Linked DNA regions of Homo sapiens. The protein of the gene in region 1 interacts with the protein of each later gene in a biochemical or structural test. Each region holds a gene or a part of one and is shown in the gene's direction. Other genes may lie near its edges. The genes, in order: ISL1, PECR, HNF4A and NR2F1.

Evidence for each region.
Region 2: the proteins of ISL1 (region 1) and PECR form a complex in vitro, tested with the Homo sapiens proteins (one study listed by BioGRID).
Region 3: the proteins of ISL1 (region 1) and HNF4A form a complex in vitro, tested with the Homo sapiens proteins (one study listed by BioGRID).
Region 4: the proteins of ISL1 (region 1) and NR2F1 form a complex in vitro, tested with the Homo sapiens proteins (one study listed by BioGRID).

Annotation. Positions count from the first base shown.
Region 1 is NC_000005.10:51,386,435-51,393,460, forward strand, and holds part of ISL1 (insulin gene enhancer protein ISL-1), read left to right. Parts: exon of another isoform or gene 1-166; coding exon of another isoform or gene 167-192; intron 193-1,055; coding exon 1,056-1,315; intron 1,316-3,211; coding exon 3,212-3,498; intron 3,499-4,839; coding exon 4,840-5,007; intron 5,008-7,026. UniProt on the Homo sapiens protein: DNA-binding transcriptional activator. Recognizes and binds to the consensus octamer binding site 5'-ATAATTAA-3' in promoter of target genes. Plays a fundamental role in the gene regulatory network essential for retinal ganglion cell (RGC) differentiation.
Region 2 is NC_000002.12:216,071,785-216,078,810, reverse strand, and holds part of PECR (peroxisomal trans-2-enoyl-CoA reductase), read left to right. Parts: intron 1-7,026. UniProt on the Homo sapiens protein: Participates in chain elongation of fatty acids. Catalyzes the reduction of trans-2-enoyl-CoAs of varying chain lengths from 6:1 to 16:1, having maximum activity with 10:1 CoA. Has no 2,4-dienoyl-CoA reductase activity.
Region 3 is NC_000020.11:44,358,676-44,365,701, forward strand, and holds part of HNF4A (hepatocyte nuclear factor 4-alpha), read left to right. Parts: exon of another isoform or gene 1-2,246; intron 2,247-7,026. UniProt on the Homo sapiens protein: Transcriptional regulator which controls the expression of hepatic genes during the transition of endodermal cells to hepatic progenitor cells, facilitating the recruitment of RNA pol II to the promoters of target genes. Activates the transcription of CYP2C38.
Region 4 is NC_000005.10:93,586,201-93,593,226, forward strand, and holds part of NR2F1 (COUP transcription factor 1), read left to right. Parts: intron 1-898; exon of another isoform or gene 899-1,030; coding exon of another isoform or gene 1,031-1,043; intron 1,044-1,716; coding exon 1,717-2,244; intron 2,245-7,026. UniProt on the Homo sapiens protein: Coup (chicken ovalbumin upstream promoter) transcription factor binds to the ovalbumin promoter and, in conjunction with another protein (S300-II) stimulates initiation of transcription. Binds to both direct repeats and palindromes of the 5'-AGGTCA-3' motif.

The DNA of each region.
Region 1 (7,026 bases):
GAACAGACTGGACAGTTAGATTTCCACATCTCTCCTTGGAGAAGCAGGATGCCTCCTCCTGTTATGTGGATCTTTTCCTCTCTCTTCCATTCTTTCTGTTCGTAGGAATGCCCCAGCTTCTGTTATTCCTGAAAGATGGAGAAGGGGCCAGGGAAGTGCAGCCTAGATGGAACCTATAAAGATTGTCCCTTGGTAAGGAAAGGCCAGGAGTGAGAAAGACCTTAGAAGCGGGTCTTTGCATTTTTTTCATTCTGGTCATGGTTTTCAAGAAAATTGAAATGAGGTAGATGATTCAGCAACTTGAAAAAGATTGAGGGAACAGACGCAGATTTTTTTAAAAAAATAATAATACAAGGAAGAATGGAGAGGAAATTTTCTGTTAACATTGCTGCCTGAAGAAAATCTTTAGTTGGAGAAAGACTGGAAAGTACTTGTGCAAAAGGAGATGTGGAAACTCTCAGAGGTTTCATTTTGTTATTCTGCTTGTTTATTTGTGAGTGTTTGCAAACCGAGTGGGGTGACAATCCCCTTCTCCTACCTCCTTTTTTCTTGGAAGGAGGACTTTTTGTTGCAGTTTTAGACATTTCTAGCAGCAGAAATTGTGGGATAGGGAAGTGAAAGTGTTGGTGTCGGTGGCCACCAGAGTCTTTCTGGATTCCTTCCTGCCAAGATCTGCAAGATCAACACTGGGATTGATTGCTAGAGCAGCAGCCCGAGTTTGGAACCCATCAATACATTTTCTGTGGTACAAGCTAGGTGTTTTGAGCTAAGAGTTACCAACTAAGACAGAGGTTCATCGGAAAGGAAACGGGAGTAAAAGAAAGGGAGGAGGGAGGGAGGGGAAAAGAGAGATGGGGGAAGGAAGAGAGACAGGGAAGGAGAGAGCAGGGTTTCATTTCTGTCCTTCTGTTTCCAACTTCTGTTTGGAAATGCTGTTTACTTGGGGCGTCTTGCCCGGGATCTTGGGCCAGGGAAGTGCCGGCCTGAAGTGACCCCCTCTTCCTGTACTTCTCTCCCCGCTCTGGGCCGCCTCCGCTCCCCCCTCCCCCGCACAGGTTGTACGGGATCAAATGCGCCAAGTGCAGCATCGGCTTCAGCAAGAACGACTTCGTGATGCGTGCCCGCTCCAAGGTGTATCACATCGAGTGTTTCCGCTGTGTGGCCTGCAGCCGCCAGCTCATCCCTGGGGACGAATTTGCGCTTCGGGAGGACGGTCTCTTCTGCCGAGCAGACCACGATGTGGTGGAGAGGGCCAGTCTAGGCGCTGGCGACCCGCTCAGTCCCCTGCATCCAGCGCGGCCACTGCAAATGGCAGGTACTCCTCTGCCCGGCTCGGGTAGGCAGGCGCCAGGTTAAGCCAGCCTGTGTGCCAGCGGCCACAACAACTATGGTAGCTACAGGGGTGGTCGTAGTGTTTGCCTGCAGTTAAATGAAGTGTTCTGTATGCAATTTGCGCTGTGCTCTGCTCCTTTGCAGCAAGGTTCAATGCACTCACTGTCTCCCTTGATTCCCCGAGCACACCTACACCGTCTGTGTGTCTCTATATGGTTACACATAAATGTACACCACTTGTGTACACGTGTATACACACGCCCAAACATTACTTCCAGTTCGCTCTGGCCTCCAAACCTTGGCTTGCTGAAAACGGGCTTCAGCTCCCAGCCAGGTATTCTCCTGCTGCCTAATTAAAGGGGCGGAGCCCCGGGTCCCTGGAGCTTCATCCTTTAACCCAATGAAGGAAGCTTAGGTGGCCTGAAGTCATTTAGTCTCCCAAATCCTTTTTCCTTGTGAGTTGCTTCACACTCGAAATTTTTTTTTTAATTTTTTTATCTTTCTGTGAGAGAACAGGACTGAAAAGATACAGTTTTAAAAACTGCAGGCCATTGCACAGAGTTGTAATATAAAACTGTCAACAAGCTTATCTGCAGTAATTGCCTTTTAAAGGGAGCCTGCTTCTTTAAATCATTCATTCTATATGATTTGGTGAGAATTTCATCTTCAGGCCCATGGTTGTAGCTCTAAATTGACCCCATAGGTGTTGGCCTGACCCTAGGGGGTTGTAGAAGGTGCAGGATTTGTATCATGTAGATAAGAGGACTCATTCCCAAGGAAGAGGAGTGGAAACACAGCAAGGTTGGCCGGGACCAAAGCAGTGGGTTAGAAGGTGGACAGTGTTTCCAAACCTGACTTCCTGCCATGAATAGATCTACCCCTTTGCAGTTTTAAAGTATCAATTCCCACTAAACACTGAAGGTGAGGAAACTATAGCCCTCCCTTACCCTTCTGCCTTCTGGCAGCTCTAAGAATTCTGTTCAGGGGGATTTGTGACTAGTTTGCACCGGGGCACGGCTGGGGTGGTGCTCCTGTTCAGTGGAGCCTGCACTCTGCTTGTGGGGAAGCACAGAGGAAGCTAAAATACCGAGAGGGAGGCGGGGGACATCTCCCAGCCACCGTTTATCTAGAGCCTAGGCAGCTCAACAGAGTTTCCGTTTTCCACTGCTTGGGATCAGCCCATCTCAGGAACATCCATGTATTACCTTAGATTTAATACTAAGAGCAGGGATTGGAGATATGGCAGAAATAGCGAATCTCTTCAGCCCCTTCACATGACTGTCCTCTCGGACTGAAGTTCAAGGCGTTCTGGCAGAGTTCTCGACCTTCCCCTTGCAGAAGTCCCTGCTGGTGTAGTATTTATGGCTGTCACTGAAGTGCTCTGCGTTCCTTTCCCTGGTACCCTCTGTGGCCTTGGCCCAAGAGAAAATTCTGATCCTGGAGAGGGTGGTAATCAATGTAACTGGGGCCCAGTCTGGGCACAAGGAAAGGTGAGAATGGAGGAGAAACAGTGCTGAAAAATGCCACCCCTGCTGTGAACAGGGGGACAGACTTTGAGACCTGCTTCCCTTGGCTAACACTTTGTTGACACGAGGAGGGGCGAGTGCTGCGTTTCAGGCCGGGATTACTCAGCAAAGACCTCTGCAGATTAGAGAGGAAGATTTTATTCTCCCTTTCACCCTCTTCGCCCCCACCTCTGCCGCCCCCTGCTTTGTGTGCTGAGGCTGCAAACCCTAGCCATTGTCCTGAGTATCTCGGGCGGGCGAGCAAGTAAGCGGGCGGGCGGGCGGGCAAGCGAGCGAGCGAGCGAGCGCGCGACCGCGGGCGGGCCGGCAAGCGAGCCTCCAGCCCAGCGCTCACGGCGCTCCTTGCCCCGCAGCGGAGCCCATCTCCGCCAGGCAGCCAGCCCTGCGGCCCCACGTCCACAAGCAGCCGGAGAAGACCACCCGCGTGCGGACTGTGCTGAACGAGAAGCAGCTGCACACCTTGCGGACCTGCTACGCCGCAAACCCGCGGCCAGATGCGCTCATGAAGGAGCAACTGGTAGAGATGACGGGCCTCAGTCCCCGTGTGATCCGGGTCTGGTTTCAAAACAAGCGGTGCAAGGACAAGAAGCGAAGCATCATGATGAAGCAACTCCAGCAGCAGCAGCCCAATGACAAAACTGTGAGTGGCTCTGGGGCCGGGCAGGGAATGCGAGGGGGAAGGAGACGCAGCGTGCGAGGTGCGTTCCTGGTACGCAGGATCGCACGGTTTTCAATCCTGCTCCTGGGCAGGAGTTTGGCCGGGGCTGCCCCTCATCCTTACCCCCCTACCCATGCCCCGGGGGACAGGCTACCCGGCGCCGGCCGCCAGCTGAGGGCGGGGAAGCTGGGAGGCTCCGTGCGCCGGGGGAGCAGCATCCAGGTCCCAACCTCGTGGGTGGGCTCATGCCCTTCCACCTCGCCTGTACCTGTGAACCGGAGAAACGCCGTCCTCCCCTCTGAGGGCAGGCGGCAACGAGGTTTGGCCCGGGTTTTGCCAACATTCAGATCGTCAGTTCCTCACGTACACAAGAAGAGGGAGGGATAATACCTTGGATTCCTGCCTACATCCAGGGGTTCCGTGGGCAGGTCACCCTGTGAGCCCCCAGGGCGCACCGCACTTCTAAGTAAGGTCGGCCGCTGCGCCTTCAGGCTGGCGAGTTCCCCCAAGGTGACCCGCATGCCCAGATCACCCTCTGCTCCAGGTGAAGCCCAGGCCTCCACAGAGGCATCAGGCCCCTCGCACCAGTATCCACTGTTATCTTGGTCCCACGGAAGCACCCACTCTGCAGGCCTCCTGGTGAAGTTAAGCTAGAGTTTCTTTTCTTCCTTTTTTTCTTTTCTTTCTTTTTCTTTTTTTTTTTTTTTTTTTTTTTTTTTTTTTTTTTTTTACTGCTTTGGACCTATTTTTAAATGCCATAAAATCTGCTGTCATTAAACTTGGCAGGCTGGCCAAGATTGGGCCAGGGCACTTTCTGAGTTGGTTAGTGCATAATAGCACAATAGGAACCAGACCCAAATGCTTTGGGGGGATGGAGTGGGGGGCTGGCTCTTCCTTGAGGAGAACGGCTTGGAAAAAATCTGCAGCTAACTGAAACTGCTCAGAAAACCACCCTGTCTAGAGGCTGAAGGGAAGCCCTGCTTACCTCAGCTTTTTAGTTCTGGGAAGCTATGGTCTGAGAAGGCAGAGGGGAGGAATTGGGCTGAGCTGTGAAGGTAAGGGGGAAGAAGAAAATCAAAGTAGAATTTGGTTTAATAAGGTCCATGCAGACCTAATAGTCCAGCCCACAGAGGCAGAAAAACAAAACAATAAAACAAATTGAATTCTAACTAATATCCGTAGGTACGGCGGATTAACTGAGTCAATAAAGACCACTATATAGATAAGATAATACCAGGGTATATTTGCTTAGCCTGTGCAGACAACGGAGGGAGGGAATTTGCTCATTAACATGTTGGGATTGGTTGGGGGGCCTATTCACAGAATATCCAGGGGATGACAGGAACTCCCATGGTGGCTGCCAGTCCAGAGAGACACGACGGTGGCTTACAGGCTAACCCAGTGGAAGTACAAAGTTACCAGCCACCTTGGAAAGTACTGAGCGACTTCGCCTTGCAGAGTGACATAGATCAGCCTGCTTTTCAGCAACTGGTAAGTGTCAGCTCCCAGATGGAAGAGGCTGAATTCCCAACAGGAGACTCTGGTTTAACTGTCACACATTGAAAGATTCAGTGGGGAGGGTGCCTTCTTGGGCTCAGGGTTGGGGAGAAACCAAGGAGGTGGGTAATGAAGAGAAGGGAGACAAATGCAGGGAAAACGAACCTCTTGGCATCTTTTTTTTTTTAATGAGACTGCATAATTTGACCATATAGGTTGAATTTTCTATCAATCAGGCCTTCTTTGAAGGATTAATTTCAAGGTACCTAACTCTAGGTAGCATGTGCCAGAAGATGTACAGTGTTGGAGAATCATACATCTTAGAATTTTAGAGTTGTCAAGGACTTCAGGAAATCGTCTTGGCATTTCAATCAGCAATTAGTAAGTTTATCCTTCCTGAGCATCTAGAGAATGGGATATATAGGACCCAAATCAAGGCGATTGTAGTATATAATCAATGCTATAATACACAATCAGTGTTGTTATCAATAAACAGCAGGCATGTGTCTGGGTACAATTTTCAAATATATTAATAAAGATTATTCAAATAGATGAATACTTTTTGTTACAGTATCCCTTGCTGGGAATGTCTTAATCTAAAATGTAGGACCGTTTAAATGTTTTCAAGTGTATGAGTTCAAATGTCATAGAGACACACAGTGTGTACCATGTATAGCAAAAGGGACATGAGCTCTACCAATCAGAAGTAAAGTGTTTAATCTGTGAAAACCTTAACATGTTTTCCACATCCAGAGAGGAGAAAATTAATTCACTTTTTGCCTACAAAAGGCTTAAGGGGTCAAGATAAATAAGAACAATAAATATATGTCCTTTGTAATATGCTATATTTATATAGATGATTTTTTTTTCTTAAAGAGTAATCAGCCTTATAGAATCTTGTTTTATAAAATGTAAAGATCTATCCTGAAACCTTGTTCCCTTTTTTGGAAATGAAGCTTTAGTTGAGGTTAGCTTTTTACCCTCATATTTACCTGGAGGGCATTTGCTTTCTCAATGTCAACAGTTAGGTAATTGGCCAGAGGCAAGTGGTTAAAAGGGCTTGGCCCCAGGCTTGTGTTTGCAAATGCTAAGTGGGTGCAGAGGCTAGAAGTCCCTTAATCTCATATTGGAAAAATTTACTGTAGAAAGAAATGTAGGCTCTAGAACTAGGAAAAAAAAATTATTCTAAGCTCATTAATCTGTTGAGTTATTTGAGCGAATCCTGAATCACAGGAGGAAGGTAAGGGGAGGCTTCAGGGCAGCCAAATGTTTGCACTTTCTGAAACTTTAGTGTCAGATGAGAGCAGTGGAAGGGAAGCTGAGGCAGGAGTGGGCATAGTTAGAGAAGGTTTACAACAGCAGTACAATGCGTTTAGGGTTAAAAGAAGGAGTCAGATATTTAAGAAGGAGTCAGATATTAGGGTTAAAAGAAGGAGTCAGAATGGGATGATGTCATAATATATGGGTCTCATTTTGGAAGGAAGAGCCTGATTTAAAGAGAGAGAGAGAGAAAGGCCAAGAGGCAGCAGGACCAACAAGGAAGAATGCCCAAGCTGTGAGCCTGCTGAGGAGTTAATCTTTGTTCTGTGGAGCCTCCTCTCAATCTCCTGTCAAAGGATCTGAGCCTGTTACGGATTTTCCAACTGAAGAAGAGAGTCTTTGATGCCTAGAGACTGAGAGCTCACCTACTCCCAGGGCAACATGTAGCCAGCAGGATAATTTTATTTCGAGCATGCATAGTAGAGTTGTGATGCCATTTTACAGTGGGAAACACATTTGTTCTTAAATAATTTAATGCAACATAATGTTGGGAATTCAGTTTCAGTTAAAACAGAGATCTTTTGGAAGATGGGAAAGTGAGAGGATTTCTTCCCAAGTTTTTCTCCTCTAGGCTTTCTCTAAGCCTGTTAAAATTCAGTTATCTATGTGAATATCTTTACATATCTATCTACACAAACATTTCTACATATACAATATGATGAGTTTATAATCTTTTTATGAATACTATTCCAG
Region 2 (7,026 bases), on another chromosome or scaffold:
AGACTATATTTTTCTTACCACAAACTAAAACATTAGGACATTGGTCTTGTAATCTTTTGGAAGACATGAATCTGTCTGAGATTCTGATGAAAGTGGTGGCGTGTCTTTTGAGAAAAAGACATCATATACTTAAAAATATATATACACAATTATTTTGTTGTATTGGAAATGGATTTCCTTCAGTGAAAGAATATTAAAAATCTTTTTCTTTTTTTTTTTTTTTGAGATGGAGTTTCGCTCTGTCGCCCAGGCTGGAGTACAGTGGCGCAATCTCGGCTCACTGCAACCTCCACCTCCCAGGTTCAAGCAATTCTCTGCCTCAGCCTCCTGAGCAGTATTTTTAATAGAGACGGGGTTTTACCACGTTGGCCAGGCTGGTCTTGAACTCCTGACCTTATGATCCATCCCCCTTGACCTCCCAAAGTGCTGTGAGCCACCGGGCCTGGCCATAAAAATCATTTTTATAATTACTTTTTCCTCTTTATTTTTTTATGCCAGAATCAATGGCTATTTCCACGACATTGTCATATTTTTACTAGAGATGGGGTTTTGGCATGTTGGCCAGGCTGGTCTTGAACTCGGACCTCCAGTGATCTGCCCGCCTCAGCCTCCCTAAGTGCTAGGATTACAGGCATGGAGGCCCCGCGCCTAGCCTCCAGTTTTCTTTCTAGTCAGAAGGCCACTGTTTTTTGTTTTTGGTTTTGGTTTTTTGGTGTGAACTATGTCTTTTTGGCATGAACTTTGAGGCATGGTTTTTAAAATGATGATATTTTTGCTTTTTTTTTTTTTTAACGAAAAATACAGGTGTTTTCTTTTTTACTTCATACTATGCCAGATGGTAACCAAAGATAATTTAGATGTTCATTAAAAAATATTTAAAAGACGAAGACAATTTTAATTACTCATAATTAACATTATTTTCAGAAAAATGGCTAAAAATCTTACAAACTTCCTTCCAGTCCATTTTTGCATGTATAATCCATATTTTTTTTTTTTTTTTTTTTGAGACGGAGTCTTGCTCTGTAGCCCAGGCTGGAGTACAGTGGCACGATCTTGGCTCACTGCAACCTCTGCCTCCCAGGTTCAAGCGATTCTTCTGCCTCAGCCTCCTGAGTAGCTGGGATTACAGGCACATGCCACCATGCCTGGCTAATTTTTGTATTCTTAGTAGAGACAAGGTTTCACCATGTTTGCCCAGGCTAGTCTCGAACTCTTGACCTTGTGCTCTGCCCGCCTCAGCCTCCCAAAGTGCTGGGATTACAGGCGTGAGCCACTGCACCCGGCCCTGCATGTATTTTTTTTTGAGATGGAGGTCTTGCTCTGTCACCCAGGCTGGAGTGCGGTGGCGCGATCTTGGCTCACTGCAAGCTCCGCCTCCCGGGTTCAAGCCATTCTCCTGCCTCAGCCTCCCTAGTAGCTGGGACTACAGGCACCCACCACCACACCCGGCTAAGTTTTTGTATTTTTAGTAGAGACGGGGGTTTCACCGTGTTAGCCAGGATGGTCTCGATCTCTTGACCTTGTGCTCCGCCTGCCTTGGCCTCCCAAAGTGCTGGGATTACAGGCGTGAGCCTCGGCACCCCGGCAAATATTTTTTATTAAAAGTAAAATTGGGCCAGGCGCGGTGGCTCATGCCTGTAATCCCAGCACTTTGGGAGGCCGAGGTGGGCGGCCACCTGAGGTTGGGAGTTCGAGATCAGCCTGACCAACATATAGAAACCCCATCTCTACTAAAAATACAAAATTAGCCAGGCGAGGTGGTGCGTGCGTGTAATCCCAATTACTCGGAGGCTGAGGCAGGAGAATCGCTGAACCCGGGAGGCAGAGGTTGCAGTGAGCTGAGATGGTGCCATTGCACTCCAGCCTGGGCAACAAGAGCGAAACTCCATCTCAAAAAAAAAAAAAAAAGTAAAATTGGAATGCTGTTAGGTTTAGAATTCTATTTTTCCCAATAATATGGTATGCATTTCTCCAAGTAAGTCTTCAATAGCAAGATATTTATTTATTTATTGAGATGGAATCTTGCTTTGTTGCCCAGGCTGGAGTGCAGTGGCTTGACAGCAGCTCACTGCAACCTCTGCCTCCCAGGTTCAAGTGATTCTTGTGCCTCAGCCTGCCACGTAGCTGGGACTACAGGTGTGTGCCACCATGCCTGGCTAATTTTTGTGTTTTTAGTAGAGATGGAGTTTTACTATGTTGGCCAGGCTGGTCTCGAACTCCTGACCTCAAGTTATCTGCCGGCCTCGGCCTCCCAAAGTGCTGGAATTACAGGCGTGAGCCACTGCACCAGGAACAATAGCAAGATATTTAAATGGAAGCATGTATATTTCATTGTTATTGATTTAACTATTTCCCTCATATTGAATTTTTAGGTAATTTCCATTTTTTCACTTCTCAAGACTACATCCTTGCATGAAAATCTTTGCTTGACTCTGTTTCCAAACATTGTGGCACATGTGGTGGCATGGCACATGCTTGTAGTCCCAGCTACTTGGGAGGCTGACACATGAGAATTGCTTGAACTCTGAAGGCGGAGGTTGCAGTGAGCCGAGATCACGCCACTGCAATCTGGCCTGGGTGACAGAGTGAGATTCCATCTCAAAAGAAAAGAGAAGAAAAAAATTGGCTAACATTTTCTTTTTTGCTCAATTTGGGTTTATATAACAATGTCTTTCACTTCCACAGGATTTTGACTTTTCCTTTTTCTGAGAGGACACAGAAAGCTTTAGCTCACAAAAGCAGGATATTGTAGGCAGAATTAGATCTCCTTTATACCTTTGACAGGTGCTGTTAGGCAGAGAGAAACCTGATTTCATCAAGGAAAACCTAGCATCGTCAAGTTGAATTCATATCAGATGTTTTTTTATCTTCAAGTTAATCATTCACTTTCTGTTACTACAGTAGAACATAAATTAGGTATAGTAGATAAAATGCAATTAGGAAATGCCGGTGGAAATTATGACCCAAGACAACATTTTTTCTTGCTCTAGTCTAGTCTAACTAGCCTGTTACCAACACCAGGGACCAAGAAGGTGCTGAATAAATGTAGTATTCTGAGTTGAAGATGGAAAGGGATCAGTATCAGCCTAAGCAGGAACGCAGCATACTGGGGCTACAAGCCTCTGATGTTGAAAGAACTCCTTATCCACAAGCTACTTCTATACCTATTCTAAGCAGGTCAGTTGAGCTTTCTGCATCTCTCTAGCTACATATAAACAAAAATAAAGTCTATTGAAATGATTTAGCATGAAAGGCAAGGATTATATATAATATTTTTCTAGTTTATTATAAGGTAGCATAAGAGGTTTGCAATAAATTAAAACAGTATAGAAGTGTATAAAAGAAAAAAATGAGCTTTACCCATTCTGCCCTTTTTCTAAATTCCCTTCCTGGTGATTTTCTACAAATTTAATGTGCACATGTATACACACGTATATATATTTTGTTTTCTACAAAATTGGGATCACAGTATTCTTACTGCTCTGTAATGGTTTTTTTTCCTACTTAAATATCTTGTTTTTTCTTTGTTTTGTTTTGTTTTTTAGAGACAGGATCTTGCTCTGTCACCCAGGCTAGAGTACAGTAGTGTCATCATAGCTCACTGCAGCCTCGAACTCCTGTCTGAAATGATTCTCCTGCCTCAACCTCCCAAGTATCTAAACTATAGGCATGTGCCACAATGTTTGGCAATAAAAAAATTTTTTTAGAGACAAGGTCTCATCCAGGATGGTCTTGAACTCACCACAAGCGACTCTCCAACCTTAGCCTCCCAAATTGCTGGGATTACAAGCATGAGTCACCATGCCTGGCCCATATCTTGTGTTTTTCAATGGTAGTATTGTAGTCATATCTCATTCATTTTAAAGCTGCATAGTATTCCATTGTGTGGGTCTGTAATAACTTATTTAACCATTTCCTGAATGGCCATTTAGGTTTTTATTTTACCCAGCATTGCATTGTTTTTCCCTGTAATATGTTTGCACCCTAGTTCAAGTTTGTCTATAGTGGAAAGTTCTAGCAGTGAAAGTAAATGGACTTGTAAAGTTGTATTTCAGTGCATCTTTACTTGTAGTAGACAACTGTCCTGAAGTCTTGAGGTTTCAGATAGTAACTAGTTATAATTTAGTAAACTTCTATTTAGATAATCCATGTGAATCATCCTATTTATATTCTCAACATATTTTTTACTCGAGGTCTTGGACAAAGTTAGGCATTAATCACCTTGGTGTTCTTGTTTTCTCTCTCTCTCTCTTCCTTCCTTCCTTCCTTTCTTCCTTCCTTCCTTCCTTCCTTCCTTCCTTCCTTCCTTCCTTCCTTTTTTTCTTTCTTTCTCTCTCTCTTTCTTTCTTTTCTTTCTTTTCTTTCTTTTTCTTTCTTTCTTGACACAGTCTCACTCTGTCACCCAGGCACAATCTTGCCTCACTGCAACCTCTGCCCCCAGGTTCAAGCAATTCTCGTGGCTTAGTCTCCTGAGTAGCTGGGATTACAGGCGTGTGCCTCCATGCTCAGCTAATTTTTTTGTATTTTTAGTAGAGGTGGGGTTTCACCATGATGCCCAGGCTGGTCTTGAAGTCCTGAATACAAGCGATCCACCGGCCTTGGCCTCCCAAAGTGTTGGGATTACAGGCATGAGCCACTGCACCCAGCCTAGGTAAAGTTTTTCATCCCTGCCCTATAGAGCCTATGCCCTACTCTGGGAACTAGAGCAAAAAATGTGTATGTTGAAGGCAGAAATATCAAAGAAAGAAGTGGGTGGAGGAAGTGGTGGCTTGTCCTGGGGTGCTTATTTCTCTCCTTTCCATCTCACTGATAAGCTCAGCTATTTCTCCTAAGTGACAGAAACCTAACTGAGTGTTGGATTAGTCTAGAAGTATATACAGTCATGTGTCACTTAACACAGGGAAATCTTCTGAGAAATACATCCTTAAGTGATTTCATCATAGTGTGAACATCATAGAGTGGTAGGCAAACCTAGATGGTATAGCCTACTATATACATGGTTTATATGGTCAATAGCCTATTGCTTCTAGGCTCCAAACCTGTACGGGAGGTTACTATGCTGAAGGCTGCAGGAAATAGTAACACAAAGGTAAATATCTGTGGTCTAAACATATCTAAACATACAAAAGATATAATAAAAATATGGTATTTTTATTATAAAATTATATAAAAACATACAAAAGATATAATAAAAATAAAAGATATAGTAAAAATATGGTATAAAATATAAAAAATGGTACACCTGTATAGAGCACTGTATAGGACACAGGAGCTTACGGGACTGGAAGTTGCTCTGGGTGAGTTAGTGAGGGAGTGATAAGTGAATGTGAAGGCCTAAGACATTATTGTTTACTATTGTAGAATTTATAAACACTGTACACACAGGCTAAACTAAATTTATAAAAAAATAAAGTAATTGCAGCTATGACATTACAGTGGCTACAGCACCACTGGATGATAAGAATGTTTAACTTCCACTTTAATCTTATGAGGCCACTGCCATACATGTGGTCTATCATTGACCAAAACATTGTTATGGGGTGTGTGACTGTGTTTCAGTTATTTTTCCTGCTGGAAGAAGAGGGCCCTCCTGGAAACAAAAGGAGAAAGGAGTAAGCTTCTCCTAACAGTATAACGTATGTTTTTGTTGCACATTATATATTTTGATAAATTAAATTCCATTTTAAAGTTAGGCAAGGCTTACAAGGAACTTATGGTGAATCTTTCCAATTTTTGCTTTATAAAACCCTCAGATTGCACACGAGAATTTCCAAAAGTTGTTACCATTTTTAGTTTACTAAATTATAACCTAAACTTTAAACATAGTTTTTAAAATTGTCTTATTTTGTACAAGCTCTATGGAAAACAGTATGGAGATTTCTCAAAGAATTAAAAATAGAATTGCCATTCAATTCAGCAAACCCACTACTGGGTGTTTACAAAGGAAAATAAATCACTATATGAAGAAGACACCTGCTCTAGTATGTTTATCACAGCACTATTCATAGTAGCAAGTTAAGAATCAACCTAAGTGTCCATCAGTGGATGATTGGATAAAGAAAATATGTTATATATACCATGGAATACTACTCAGCCATGAAAAAGAATGAAATCTTGTCTTTTGCAGGAACATGGATAGAACTGGAGGCCTTTATCCTAACTAAAATAATTCAGAAACAAGGTCAAATGGTGCATGTTCTCACTTATAAGTGGGAGCTAAAGAGTGGGTACACATGGACATACAGAGTAGAATAACAGACATTGGAGACTCTAAAAGGTGGGAGGGTAGAAGCAGGGGAGTGAGGGTTGAAAAATTACCTGTTGGGTACAGTGGCCACTATTCAGGTGATGGATACACTAAAAGCCCCATGTAACAAAACTACACTTGTCCCCCCTACATCTATAAAGATAAGAAATAAAATAAAGTGCCTTATTTTCATATGCAGTAGCTAGCTTATCTTATACAACTAAAATAGTTCAGGCCAAATGGAGAGCCTTTGTACTCTGTGCCTTTGTGAACTTTATTTATTCCACCTGTATATGCTGGACTGTGTGTTAGCCTAACAAATAGAGCAATTACAGGGTCCCTACCTCCCAGGGGATGACAGTGAGTGGAGCAGACTGTTAAATTAACAGGTAATTATGATACAGTGAAATGCTGTATTAGGGTGAAAACAGCCTATAACTGTATCACCTCACATAGAATTTAACACTGAAAAACCACTGCAATCCAGCCTGGGCAACACAGTGAGACCTCATCTTTAAAATATATATGTAAAAGAACCACTTAACAGTTCATAGGTAGTCTTTGCTTTTGCATGGCATTGTGGCATTGTAACAATGATCATGCAAGCTGAAACCATTCAAAGCAAAAATAGTCAATGGGAAAAAGTACAATTATTTCATGACCTTCAAAAATTTTTGTCAAAGTGGCACCCAAACGGGACTTTCAGGGACAAACAGAGACCTGAAGGGACCTAAAGAGGCCTGCAGGGACAAATAGAGATAAGTAGGGATAAATAGAAA
Region 3 (7,026 bases), on another chromosome or scaffold:
TGGGGATAACATTAATCATCTCCTAAGATGACTATAGTAGAGGTGCATTGGTGGGTCAGGGACATGGCACATAGCAGAGCCTCAGTTAGAGGCAGAGGAAGACATGGCTGTTGTGAGGATCAAATGGAAGGATCCATGAGTGCTTAGAACAGTCCTGGGTCCAGAGCAAGCACGCAAGAAATCCTCGTTGTGGTTTCATGTTTTTGAGCTTTAGCAGGATTCTAAAGAGCTGCTCTTTGGTGTGGTGATGCTGGGTGGACTTGGCCCTCCCTGGACTTCCGGTGCTTCCACGGCACACTGGTTTTGGCTTTGCGGTTCTCGTCATCGCTCTGATCAGATAGTTGCTGGTGTGAATTGTGGTGTCTGGCTGCCCCACCAGACTATAAACTCCGTGAGTTCTGGGACCTGGGTAGTTTGTTCAGCCTTGTTTGTCTCACTATGTCTCACATGGTGACTGGCACAGAAGAAATGCTCAATAAGCATTTGTTGGATGAGTGAAATGATGGGCTTAAAACAGCGCTACAATGATGATCATCAATGTCAGCCAGATCCCACTCTCTTGCCTTCCTTCCTCTCTGCCCTCCTCACTGCGTTGTCTTTGGTCCTTGTATTTGCCCCATTATAACCCAAACTGGCTGTCCCAGCTTCAGCTGTCATGTCTGCACTTACGTGTCTGAAGCTGGAGGCAGGAGGAGAAGAGGTTTTCCTCAGTGCCCTTGTTTCTTTTATCCAAAAGCAAAACTTCCCCAGAAACCTCCTGGCAGACTCCCCTAGTTCAAGGAAAGCTGGGAAGACAAGTATGTAGTGGAAAGAGATGGGAAAGCCAAGATGGACCTAGACCAGTGATTTTTCTCTTGGGGTGTGGCACACTCCTGCTCCAAACAGAACTGAGGCTCTGGTATAAATGAGTTTCTCAGCCTCAGCACTGTTAACTTTCTGGCCTGGAAGATTCTCTGTGGTGAGGGGCTGTCCTGTGCACTGTAGGATGTTAAGCAGCATCCCTGGCCTTTACTCCCCAGATGCCAGTAACATCTCTTCCCATCAGTTTTGCCAAAGAAAAAATGTCTCCAGAAAGCCAAATGTACCCTGGGGCACATATAACCCCACTGTGTTATAGGAGAACAAGGTAGTTCTGGGGAGTGTCTACCACAATGGAGTAGAGTAGACTGTGACTCTTGTGTTGTTCTGCTTTGAGTGCCAGGATCTTGCTCAGTGCCAATCTGGTACTACCCTGAGTAACTCTGAGGATGAGATGCTAAACATGCATATCTGTGTGCTAACCTGACTCCTGGCCTTATTACTTTTCTACCCTTATTTTCCCTTTAACAAGTTTCCCTTGGTTATTTATTTTGCTTCTTTGGTAGTTGCTCATTTCCGTAAGTACCTCGAATCTCCTTAAAGGAAAGGTCTGTATCTATCTCATTCTTTTTGTTATAGTCCAGCCTTCCACAGGGCCTGATCCCATGTAGACCTTGATTGAAGATTAATTAAGTGGATGAATGAATGGGAAGATGGATGGATGAATAAATGTATGTTTAGGTGGGTGGATAGGTGAATGGACTGATGAATGAATGTGATGTGATGAATGGATGTGATAGATGGGTGGAGGGATGCATGAATGGAATAGAGGGAGAAATAGCTGGATGGATGAGACAAATGAATGAGTAACTGGGGAGATGGCTGGGTGGATAGATGGGTGGATGGATTAATAAAAAGATGTTATGGGTGGATGGTTGGGTGTGGAGGATGATGCATGGATGGGTAAGTAGATGGATGGAAAGATATGTAGGTGCATGTGATAAATGGATGAATAAGTAGCTGGATAGATGGGTAGGTGGTTAGGGGAAGGATGGATGGACAAATGATGTGATGAGTGGGTTGATGAAAAGATGGATGAATGGATGGATAAGAAGGGGTGGGCTGAGGTAGCCTGGAATAGCAGCATCTTCAAGTGCTCTAAACAGGACAAGTGAAGAGATAGGGGATGTCAACAATCTTCCATCAGGGCAATACTGTATATCTGTTTTTAAGTGCCAGGTGAGCCTAATTTTTCCTAGCTATGTAGGCCTAGTCCCTTTGACCAATAGCATCAGCTTGAGGACAGATCAGAGGCCATTGTCGGAGACAGTTTGGTGATGTGGCTCTGCCCCTTGAAGCTCTATGATGATGGTGCTTTGCTTCACTTCTCTGGTCCTCAGTTTCTTCACCCATCAAATGAGCCTTGGTTGTTGTGAAGATTCCATGAGCTAATGAAAGAGAAAAGGTAATAGAAGCTATAACAAACATGCCGTGTCCTTGTGAAGGGTGGATAGGCCCAAAATCGAGTAGGACCCCAGATGCTGGCTGGCTATGGGACCGTGTCCAATATCAGGCTATGGCTGTTCCCACCCTTCATTCTTAAAATATGGCCCCTCTCCAGCCCTTCCCCTATCTCCCCTCCCACATCACCTTCCCATCCTACGTCAATTCAGTCTTCAGCCCCTATGATTCACAAACCTGGTTGCACATAGGAAACTTTTTAAAACAATTTTGGGGCTCCACTCCAGACCCAGTGAATCAGTCTCCTGGGGTGAGTTCCAAGAGTCTGTAATTTTTTGAGCTCCTTGTGTGACTTAGGGTATGCAGTTCAGTTGAGGTATGGAAACCATTGCCTTACTTTCTCCCATTTAGTAAACAGAGGAACTAAATATCCAGAGTGCATCTTGCCTCAACCCAGAAGCCTCCCGTATTCATTAATTCATTGTTCATTTGTTCATTTCTTCAACAATCTTCCACTGGAGGCTTATGGTATTTAAGACATTTTGTAAGGCACTGGGGAAACACAGGAGGATAAAACTTTGCTTCACGTGGTGGCTCATGCCTGTAATCCCAGCACTTTGGGAGGCCAAGGTGGGTGGATCACCTGAGGTCAGGAGTTAGAGACCAGGTAGAGGCAGAGGTTGCAGTGAGCCAAGATCACGCCACTGCACTCTAGCCTGGCGACAGGAGTCAGACTATGTCTCAAAACCAAACCAAAACAAAACAAAACCAAAAAAAAACAACAAAAAAAACAACTTTGCTTCAGATCTTAAACTGTGCTCAGTTTGGCAGGAGGACAGACAAGCCAGCAGCAACCAAAGACAGAGTGCCATGATAAGGACAGCAAAGGCACTGTGGGATACAGAGGGACTTAGGAGAAGGGGAAGGGGTCACAGACTTCTTGACCTTGGAGGAGTAGACTGATATCTAAGCTGGAACCTCGGTTTAGCAGGAGTCAGCCGGGAGAAGAGACGGTGGGGAAGAGTGTTCCCAGCTGAGGGAACAGCATATGAAAAGGCCTGGAGCCTGGCCACACACTGCTCTGATTTTACTTATATTTGACTGCAATTAATTCCATCCTTTACTGAAAGTATCTTGAGACTTGTCTGGTTGTTTCATGATTGATTAATCTTATTCCTAAAAGCATGCTGAGGCTGGGCATGGTGGCTTATTGTGGATTACACGCCTGTAATCCCAGCACTTTGGGAGGCTAAGGCGGGTGGATCACTTGAGGTCAGGAGTTCCAGACCAGCCTAGTCAACATGGTGAAACCCTGTCTCTACTAAGCATACAAAAATTAGCTGGACGTGGTGCCAGGCGCCTGTAATCCCAGCTACTCGGGAGGCTGAGGCAGGAGAATCACTTGAACGCAGGTGGTGGAGGTTGCAGTGAGCCGAGGTTGTACCACTGCACTCCAACCTGGGCAACAGAGGGAAACTTGTCTTAAAAAAAAAAAAAAAAAAAAAAAGCATGCTGAGATGCTTAAGTGAAGGAATTGTGCCTTCCATTTTTCCTGACTCATATGCCTGTAGCATAAGGATGGGTCAATGATAACGAAAGGAATTTGTTTTCATTTAAGCCCCTTTTATGTAATGGGCAAGATGTTGGCTATTTGATATGTTTTCTCCCTTTTAAGCCTTGCAATAACCCATCCAAGTAGGAAATATTATCTCCATTTTATAAACAAAGAAATTGAGATTCAGAGTTGTTAAGTCACGTTTCCCTGCATCGCCTTGCAAATAGGTGATTAAAATCTAGTCTGACACCAAATCTTCATTCTTTCAGCTATTATGTCATAATAGCATCCAAGGAGTTTACCACCTTCTACCACCTACTAGCTGTGTGACCTTGAGTGAATGACTCAATTCTCTTTTTTTTTTTTTTTTGAGACGGAGTCTTGCTCTGCTGCCCAGGCTGGAGTGCAATGGTATGATCCTGGCTCACTGCAACCTCTGCCTCCTGGGTTCAAACAATTCTCCTGCCTCAGCCTCCTGAGTAGCTGGGATTGTAGCTGGGGTTACAAGCGCCTGCCACCATGCCTGGCTAATTTTTTTTTATTTTTAGTAGAGATGGGGTTTCACCATGTTCGCCAGGCTAGTTTTGAACTCCTGACCTCAAGTGATCTGCCCGCCTCGGCCTCCCAAAGTGCTGGGATTACAGGCCTGAGCCACTGCGCCCGGCCGACCCAATCTTTTTTGCCTCAGTTTCCTCATCTGTCAAATGGGGTTGATGATAATACCATTTACTTCACAGGGTTGTTGTGAGACATAAAGTCAATATTTGTAAAGTGCTGAGTGTCTAGCACATAGAAAGTGCTATGTGAATTTGAACGATTATTATTATTATACCTATAGTGTGTGCATCTACTATATGCAAAGGACTGGATGCTTACTAGGTGTTAGCATCATTTTGGCTGTTGTAGAAACAACAGAGATGAGTAAGGAATAGATAACTGGTCCCAGGATGCAACTGTCTCTGGCTGGAGACTAAGGACAAGGCTTTGTTGCAAGCCTTCTGGGGCCCTGGGATGCCCAGGGTCTCCTCTTGGGGGTGCTGGTTCATAGATGGGGGCCTGTGTGGCTCCTTCACAGAGGAGGAGGCAGATGAGAGGCATAGAAAGGGAGGGGACAGACCTATCCTCATCAGAGACCTGGGAGATGGCTCTGGCCCTGGCCCTGGGTAGCTGTTTGTGACCTCACTCAAGTCCTTCTCCTGCTGTTTCTCCATCTACTCTTTTTTTTTTTTTTTTTTTTTTGAGACAGAGTCTCAATGTCACCCAGTGGCTCTATCTCTGCTCACTGTAACCTCCACCTCCTGGGTTCAAGCAATTCTCATGCCTCAGCCTCCCAAGTAGCTGGGATTGCACGTGTGTGCCACCACACCTGACAAATTTTTGTAGTCTTGGTAGAGATGGGTTTCACCATGTTGGCTAGGCTGGACTCCTGGCCTCTTGTGATCCTCCCACCTCGGCCTCCCAAAGTGCTGGGATTACAGGTGTAAGCCACAGCACCCAGCCTCCATTTCCTCTTTTGAGAAATGGAGGTATGACAACCATCTGGCTCAGCCATTGTCACACAGTATTCCCTGGGTCCTAAGAGTCAGGAAAGATGCTGCAGGGTTCCCTTTGAGGGTAATGTGGGTAGGGACGTGTTCAAATGGACTAGGGCTTAGCCTCTCCCCACCCTTCAACCTCTGGCTCCATCAGAGACACTTCTTTTTGACTTTTGTATATTTCTTTTTATTTTATTTTAGAGACAGGGGTCTCGCTATGTTGCCCAGGCTAGCCTCAAACTCCTGGGCTCAAGCAATCCTCCCGCCTCAGCCTCCCAGCCCCTGGGATTACCTGCTCATGCCACTGCACCCGGCACTCTGTTTTGACTTTTAAATGAAATATTTAATGGAGGGTCTCCACAGTTCAAAAATATTTGGAAAATCAGAAGACCACACCAGTGTGTTTCAAACTGCAATCTTAACCCAGGAATAGGTCATGCAATTTTTTTTTTATTTTTTTTTTCTAGATGGAGTCTTGCTCTGTCACCCAGGCTGGAGTGCAGCGGCACGATCTTGGCTCACTGCAACCTCCGCCTCCTGGGTTCAAGCAATTCTCTGCCTCAGCTTCCTGAGTAGCTGGGATTACAGGTGCCCACCACCGCGGCCAGCTACTTTTTGTATTTTTACTAGAGACGGACTTTCACCATCTTGGCCAGGCTGGTCTTGAACTCCTGACCTCGTGATCCACCTGCCCCGACCTCCCAAAGTGCTGGGGTTACAGGTGTGAGCCACCGTGCCCAGCCGGTCCTTCAATTTATTGGGATTATATTAGTTCAGACAATATAGCTTATGTAACAAGCAAATGCAGACTTTAAGTTAGAAGTTTATTGACCTCTGTGGCATAGTCATCCAGGGACCCCTAAGGTCACCCTAGCCCAGAAAGACACTTTCACTTCTACTCACATTCCATTGGTGAGAACTAGTCACATGGCCCTTGCCAAATGCAAGGGGGTCTGGAAGATGTGGTCCCTAGCGGGGCGGGACTAGCTGTAAAGTTTGTAAAGGGGAGCGTGAATTAGTTGGTACACAGTTGATCGTCTGTGCAGTAGGGTCATGCTCACACGTCCCTCCACACACACACGTTAAATATGTATAACAAGTGTAAATATACAATTTAAAAAAGTATCTTTTTTTTTTGGTTTGTTTTTGTTTTGTTGTTGTTTTTGAAACAGGGTCTTGCTCTGTCATGTGGGCTACAGTGAGCCACAATCATGGTTCACTGCAGCCTCAACCTCCCAAGCTCAAGCAATCCTTCCATCTAAGCCTCCCAAGTAGCTGGGACCACAGGTGCATGCCACCATGCCCAGCTAATTTTTTATTTTTATTTTTTTGTAGTGACAGGTCTTGCTGTGTTGCACAGGCTGGTTTCCTACTCCTGTCCTCAATCTTCCTGCATCAGCCTCCCAAAATGCCGGGATTACAGGTGTGAGCTACTGCACCTGGCCTTTACAATTTTTTACATAAAATGTTTCAATAAAAAAGTGCATAGATAGATACAGAGATAGCAATAAAGCAAATGTGACAGAATGCAACCAGTTGGTGAATTTAGGCGAAGGGATACATCAGTGCTCACTATACTAGTCTTTCAAACTTTAAAGTTTGAAATTTTTCAAAGTAAAATATTGGAGAAAATGAAATTCTTAAAATTTACTAGACCTATAAGTAGACTAAAACAAT
Region 4 (7,026 bases), about 42 Mb from region 1:
ACCGTGCTTTCATAGTTGTGTCATTTTTTTTAAAGCATGATACTCGTTTTATTTCTTCATCAAACTCCACCCTCTGCTTAAATACTGCATACAAATTACAATTTACAACGGCATTTACCGATCCTTCTGATTTGGCCGTAATGCATAGACTGCAGCTAGCATGAGCTTCCACATCATTTAATCCCTGTGTTGTATGGGTTTGTTTTTTTTAAAAAAAAACACAACTTTTGATGTTGTATTTGGATATGCTTCATGTTCATGTGGCAAGAGATGCAGTACTTTTCTTATAAATATATTTAGCCGTTTACAGTTAAAGTTTATCTCTTGACAATCATTAAAGATGTCTTATAGTCAAATTAGCGAACCAGTCAATTTTGCAGAATGCAGATTACTCCTTCTTGTAATTGACTTTAAAATTATATTTTATATGCCACAAGAAAAGAAATTGAATTCCTTCAGATCTCAAGGAGCAGACAAATATGACTACTTCATTTCTAGCTCCAGGGAGATTTTGTAGGCATCTGAAAAAAAAAAAACTTTGAATTGTACTCTCACTTAATTGAAAAATAACTGCCAAGTTCAAAACTATAATTAGAAAAAAGTATTCTAGGCATTATGTTTCAAGAGCTTCAATTGCACTGGAACTTGCATTAAAATTAGAATCAAAGCAAACTTAAGAAAATAGAACAAAACCTGAAATAAGATAGCTACATGTACATGAACATATCTATATTAATTTGTTGGGGGAAGAGTTCAGTAGCCCTAACTTTTCCTAAAGTTGTCTTTGTTTATATGGCAATTTAAAACGCTGGCACTGTTGAAGTAAAACATACACATTTAAAAAAAAAAAAAAAAAAACTTTGGTCAGCTTTAAGAACTCAAAGCATGCTTACGTTTTGCATTCAGATGGTTAATGAATCCAGTGTTTTTGCAGTTGAAAGCTCGTGCATTCACTGGGCAAAAGCTGGCTGCAGGTTGCAGTGGCACCGCGCAGGACAGACATTAATTATATTTCCTACTTTTTTCAATAATGTTTGGCTACTGTAAGTTCAACTTTTTTTCTTGAAAATTTTCAATTTTCTGTTGCTTTTAATAGTGAGAACTTTGTATGGGGCGACGGGGAGGAGGGGAGAAGGGAGGGGTGCAGGATACTTGTTCTCTACTCAAAAGTTGTAAGTGGTTAGTAGGATATGTAACTTGTGTCTATTTTAAGAATTATTCTATAGCATTTTAAGAGAATGTGGAAACATTTTATCAGCAAAACGCTGCTTGCTTGCAAATGAGGAGGCCGCTAGGCATTTGCCTAGAACCACAACCTTTCTCCGGTTTCGCCTTTTTTTAACCCTGATTTTTTTTTTCCATTCTGGAGGGGTGAGTGGGGTTTCATTTATCTGTGTGTTCCCCCGTGGTGGCTTAGGGGTTGGATGACACTTTCTTGACCTTGCCAGGGTTGGGGCCCTGGAGTCAGGCCTAGCTCCGGCGGGGCTGACGTGGCCAGGGGCTCAGGCAGTGGCTGGACACACTGAGCTGTGGAGCTGGAGGGCCTCACCCCAGATCTCCTAGCGGTGTGGACTGTGAGAGCGAGCCGGAGAAGATGCGCGGGGCGCGTGTGGCTGCGGGAAGAGCTTCTGCATTGTGTTGGGTACGCTGCGGCGCGGCAATGTTCGCAAGCTCCCTGGATGCACATTGCCTCTTTTCTCTCTTTCTTTTTGTCAGCGGTTCAGCGAGGAAGAATGCCTCCAACCCAGCCCAATCCAGGCCAGTACGCACTCACCAACGGGGACCCCCTCAACGGCCACTGCTACCTGTCCGGCTACATCTCGCTGCTGCTGCGCGCCGAGCCCTACCCCACGTCGCGCTACGGCAGCCAGTGCATGCAGCCCAACAACATTATGGGCATCGAGAACATCTGCGAGCTGGCCGCGCGCCTGCTCTTCAGCGCCGTCGAGTGGGCCCGCAACATCCCCTTCTTCCCGGATCTGCAGATCACCGACCAGGTGTCCCTGCTACGCCTCACCTGGAGCGAGCTGTTCGTGCTCAACGCGGCCCAGTGCTCTATGCCGCTGCACGTGGCGCCGTTGCTGGCCGCCGCCGGCCTGCATGCCTCGCCCATGTCTGCCGACCGCGTCGTGGCCTTCATGGACCACATCCGCATCTTCCAGGAGCAGGTGGAGAAGCTCAAGGCGCTACACGTCGACTCAGCCGAGTACAGCTGCCTCAAAGCCATCGTGCTGTTCACGTCAGGTGAGGCTGCGGTCGCGGGGAGGGCAGGCCGCGCCGGCAGCGAGCGCAGGCCCCGCGCCGCCCGGGCCTGGCCTTCGGAGCCTCCCGCGCGGCCGGTGCGGGGCGGGCCGGGCCCTCGCTGGACACTGAGCCTGGCCCGGGTCTGTGACCCCCGCGCGGTGACCGGCTGGCCGCGCCGCTGCCATCTTGGGAGCGCGGCGGTGCGGGAACCGAGGCGGCGCGGGTGCGGCCGGCGGGCGGCCGGGCCTAGTCGCCCGGACCCCTACGTGGGGCCGCGGCTGCCGAGGGTGTGTGTCTGAGGCGGGGGGGCGGTGCTGTGGATCCGTCTGGCTGCGCGCGCGCGCGCGCGTGTGTGTGTGTGTGTGTGTCTCTGTGTGTGTGTCTGTGTGTGGTGCGTGTTATGTGTGAGCCAGAGCTCAGCGTTTCTGGGGGAGGCGAGGGAAGGAAGAGAACGTGGGAATGTGGCTTCTTACCCTGTGTGGCACTCTCCTTGAATGAATTTCCCGACACAGAGAGACACAGAGAGAGGTGGAAAGAGAAGAATACGCACAAATAAATCATAATAATCCCGCTTTATCGCTGCCTGATTTTCCCTTATCGGAAACCATTCATGTTTGCAGTTGGTGAGGTTATTGAGGGTCGTAAAAAACGGATTCGATCTAAACAAGAAAGATAAAAAACAAAAGCAATGCTGTAGAACCCGCAAGTATGGGAGGATTCCCCGCCTGAAGATGAATTCCAAAGCTATGCAAAACACATGAACACTGGAAATTTAAGAGTGCCTTAAAAAATATCAAATTATGTGTAGGCAGTGGTAACATGCATGTTAACAATTTCTCTTATGATAGATGGTTCAAATTAACTTCCAGAAAAGTGCATTAACGTTTCCTTTGAAGGGCTCTGGTCTGAGCCTCCGAGAACAATCCCCGCTTTTTATTATTGTAACCTGTAAGAGGGAAACATATAAACACCCAGGACAGCAGGTAATGGGGAGAAATAGAGACAAAGCCAGAGAGGAGGCTGGTGGCAAGTAGTGCTGCTTAGACTGGGTCTTGGGCCCTGCCCACTGTGAGTAGGGTTAGCTGCAGTTTTACCACCATTATTGGCAGTATTGTTTTTAATTCCTCCATTCGGAGAACAAATAAACCATCCTAATAAATCTATCCTAGAACCAGGCTTTCCAATGGCCAAATTAAAACCATTCTTGAACAGGGATAGCAAAATCCCTTTCATAAGGCCTTGTTGAACAGTAAGCAATGGTATAATCTATCAATATTTCTTGGCTTTCATGTGTGAAGAATTGTATTTACATTGTATTAAAATGACTCCTAAATTTGCACAATATTGTAATGTAGCAAATGTAGTATTAATATCGATCTGAACAGCAGATAATTTATTTAGACAAGAGCATCTCATTTGTATGCAGGGTGGCCAGAGCAATGGACTTGGACTGCCCCCCTTTTACTTTCAGTGCAAATGCAGGTCTGCTAGTGAGAGAGGGAGTTATTCTTTCCAAGAGGATAAAGTGCAAACCTTAAAACAAATGGAAGATTTATGGAATAGCCTCCTCCGTATTTGAATGCATTTTATCTTAATAAGTCTTCTTGATGGAAACGTGTTTTTCAAAAGTGACAAAGAGCCTGGGAAGCAGCAACCAGGCTGCCTCAGCTCTGGCAGGCCTGGGGCCTGGCTGGCTCTCTACTACCAGGCTCTTTAGCCAAATTCATCAGGAAGCAAGCCAGTGTCAGGGAAGCTGGGGTTTGAAAATCTCATCCAGCGAGGTGTCTTGAAGCAGAAATGTGACTTGGAACTGGACAGACGTTTTCTCAGGAAAGGTCTCTCCTCTCTTTTCCTTACACCCCCTAAGGTTCTTTGAACCCCCTTGACTTTGCTAATCTCATGCCCTTTCCCAGAGAGAGGTGAGGACTGTGCAGGCTGCAGGGAAACACTGTGGAATTATTCATGCTTTCCTTTTAACTTTCCATACTAAAACATTCCTGTGAAAAGTGTTCATTTAAAAAGTTTTCCAAGGAAGTTTCTTGAATCAAGTCTTCAAGGTGCAAAGAGTGCCTAGAAATGAACAATAACATTATTTTGTTGGAAAATTGCAAGCAGAATATCTGAAAATGGAAATAGAGCTGTCAGTAGTAATTCACCTCCCCCCTCCCATGCAACACATTTCCACTTTTGACTAAACTTGTTTTGATTGCTAGCCAGAAGGGAATTCATGGGAAGCCTTCTCAAAGTCATCCAACTTTTAAGCAAACTTTGAATGATGGAAAAGACAGTTTTAGACATATTGTCCAATGTGGTTTGCTTTGGCTAAGTATTTGAAGCTGGCACGGGGGTCCCCCGTGGTGGTTTTCACATTTGGCCTCCGGATGGTATGTTTAATCCTTAATATTCTGGACTGCATCCAAGGACTAGGTCATGACCTGAACTTACTTTTTAAAAAATTCATTAGTTCATACACCTAAATATTCCTTCAAATAAATGAGACTTTCTCTGAAAGGAGCCATCTAGTTAACATAAATACAATAAATCCATTTTCAGCACAATAATAACTTTGATTTCTAGTTATGGCAGCTGATTACATCTATATTTCCTGAACACTAAACTCTTCTGAATGCACAACATGAAATACATTCTCTGCACTACAAAGGCTAGGCCAGGAGGGCCTGAGCAGTAATGGTTATTTATTTACATAATTTCTTTTCCATACACTGTAGAAGAAATATTGAGAGTTCCCACATTGACACTACCGTATAAAAAGTGTGACATGGATTTTGCACATTCTGCCTCATTTTCTTATCTGGGGTATAACTCATGGAGCATAAATATATACTGTATTACACCCCCTGGTCACCTAGCTTTGTCACCACAACCCCCTAGTTGATCTGGGAGCTCATACCTTCTGTCCACAGTTGAGGGAATCCTGTTGCAAAGGGGTGAATGAATTTCCAGACTGGGAAGCCAGGCCAGAACCAGGGCTCCTGCCGGAGGGAAGCCACAGAGCTAGCTGGCTGGTACCTGGCAGGCAGGCCCAGCTACAGGCATTCACCTCCAAAGGAGGGAAGAAATGGAAGCAACCAGCACAGGACCCAGGCAGGCCTTTCCTGGGCTTCTTGTCTCTCTTGGAGCGGCCTGTTTGGGAGTTGGGAAGTGACCTTGTACTCCAGGGACCCTAATCATAAATGTCAGATAGATATTTTACTGAGCTGAGGGGATGCCAGATGGATCTTAAAAAAAAAAAATCTGCCGGGATACCAAGGGGCCCTTTTCACATTGCATTGTCTAGGGCTGAGAATGATCCATAAGCATGCAGGCAGATAATGCATGTAAAGCAAGCTCTATGTAATTATGGGTCTGGGTCTGAGTGAGGGTCATTCATCAGGGCCAGGTTAGCAAGCAGGGCCAAACTCACGGTCCCCTCTCTAAGCAGCAAAGCCCCACAGAGCTCTTGCTGCCCTGGCCCTAATAGCCATAAAGTCTCATTTGGCTTCCCATATCAGACCAGTGTGGATATACCCAACTGGCTGGCTGGAGTAATTAGACATCTGAGAGGAACCTAGTCTGTATCTGAGGTCAAAGGGGACTTGCCTCAGAAGTTCTTGAATTATCACTAGTTTTATTTGTATTTTTGCTCGAGGCCATAGCCTTGTAGATGAAGGTGTTAGAATGCTTTGTAAATCCCAGTTCTTGAAATATAAGGTCATAAAGCTCAGAAACTCAGCAGACACAGGTTTCACTTTGAATCATTTGTTGTGTCTTCTTAGGGTCACACTTGCCCATTCAAAATTATACAATGTCATTTTGGGGGCATTGCCATGCATCAATTTTTTCCCAGATCTATATATTAGCAAATTCTGCCTTTGATCTCTAGTCAACCTCCTGACTGGCTAAGGGCTCCTCTGTGATCTTACTGGTTTTTTTTTAATATTTATTATTAATATAAGAAACAAGTGGGTATTTGAACTAGGAGAGGATGCCTTTACTCCATTCCTCTTATTCCATCTTTCCCTCCCTATGCTTGCCTCTAGTTAGTTGATATAATATAATCTGCTGTCCTGAAATACTTTTAGAGGACCAAGAAGGGCCTTGGTTGACATGAACTAAGCACACAGATTTTGAGGTGCTGTCATTGTGCGGAGGTGCCTTTTTCTCCCTTGGTCCTGCCACCAAAAGCTTATCTCCCCCCAAGTCCCCCCTCAACTCCCCACCACCCACATCCCCCCCTACCCCCCCAGTTCTGAAGCAGCAGCAGCTGCTGCCTGTAGCCTAGCTTTGTGTCTGATTGCTGAAGATGTCGCCTTTCTGCAGCCTGGAGTAACTGAGTCATATTCTTCCTGATTATTATACAGCTTACAGAGATGTGACCAATTTTCAATTACTTGATCTAAGGTATAGATAGAAGTGTACACCCTCACCAAGGATTTGCTGCAGAGTCCTTTCTTGCATAGATAACGGATCTGAAATCCTATATTGCTAAAGCGTGGGCTTCATCTGATTCCAGGCACTGCCAGCCCATGATTCCTTACCCCCTCCCATGTGTTTGTTCACTACACAATCTAGGTTCTCCTGGAGGTTTCTGGTTGGGGTGGTTTGGGTTTGAGAGGGGACTCCAGGAATCCTTTAAGAACTGCCTTCAGGCTGCATATTTCCTAAGGGGTACTGAACACCCCCAGATCAGAGGCAAATGGGGCAAAAGTTAATGAGCACGGCCAGAAAGATGCTCCCTTGCAGGCCGAGGACAGGTTGTTAAGCGCAGCAAACATGGTTCCA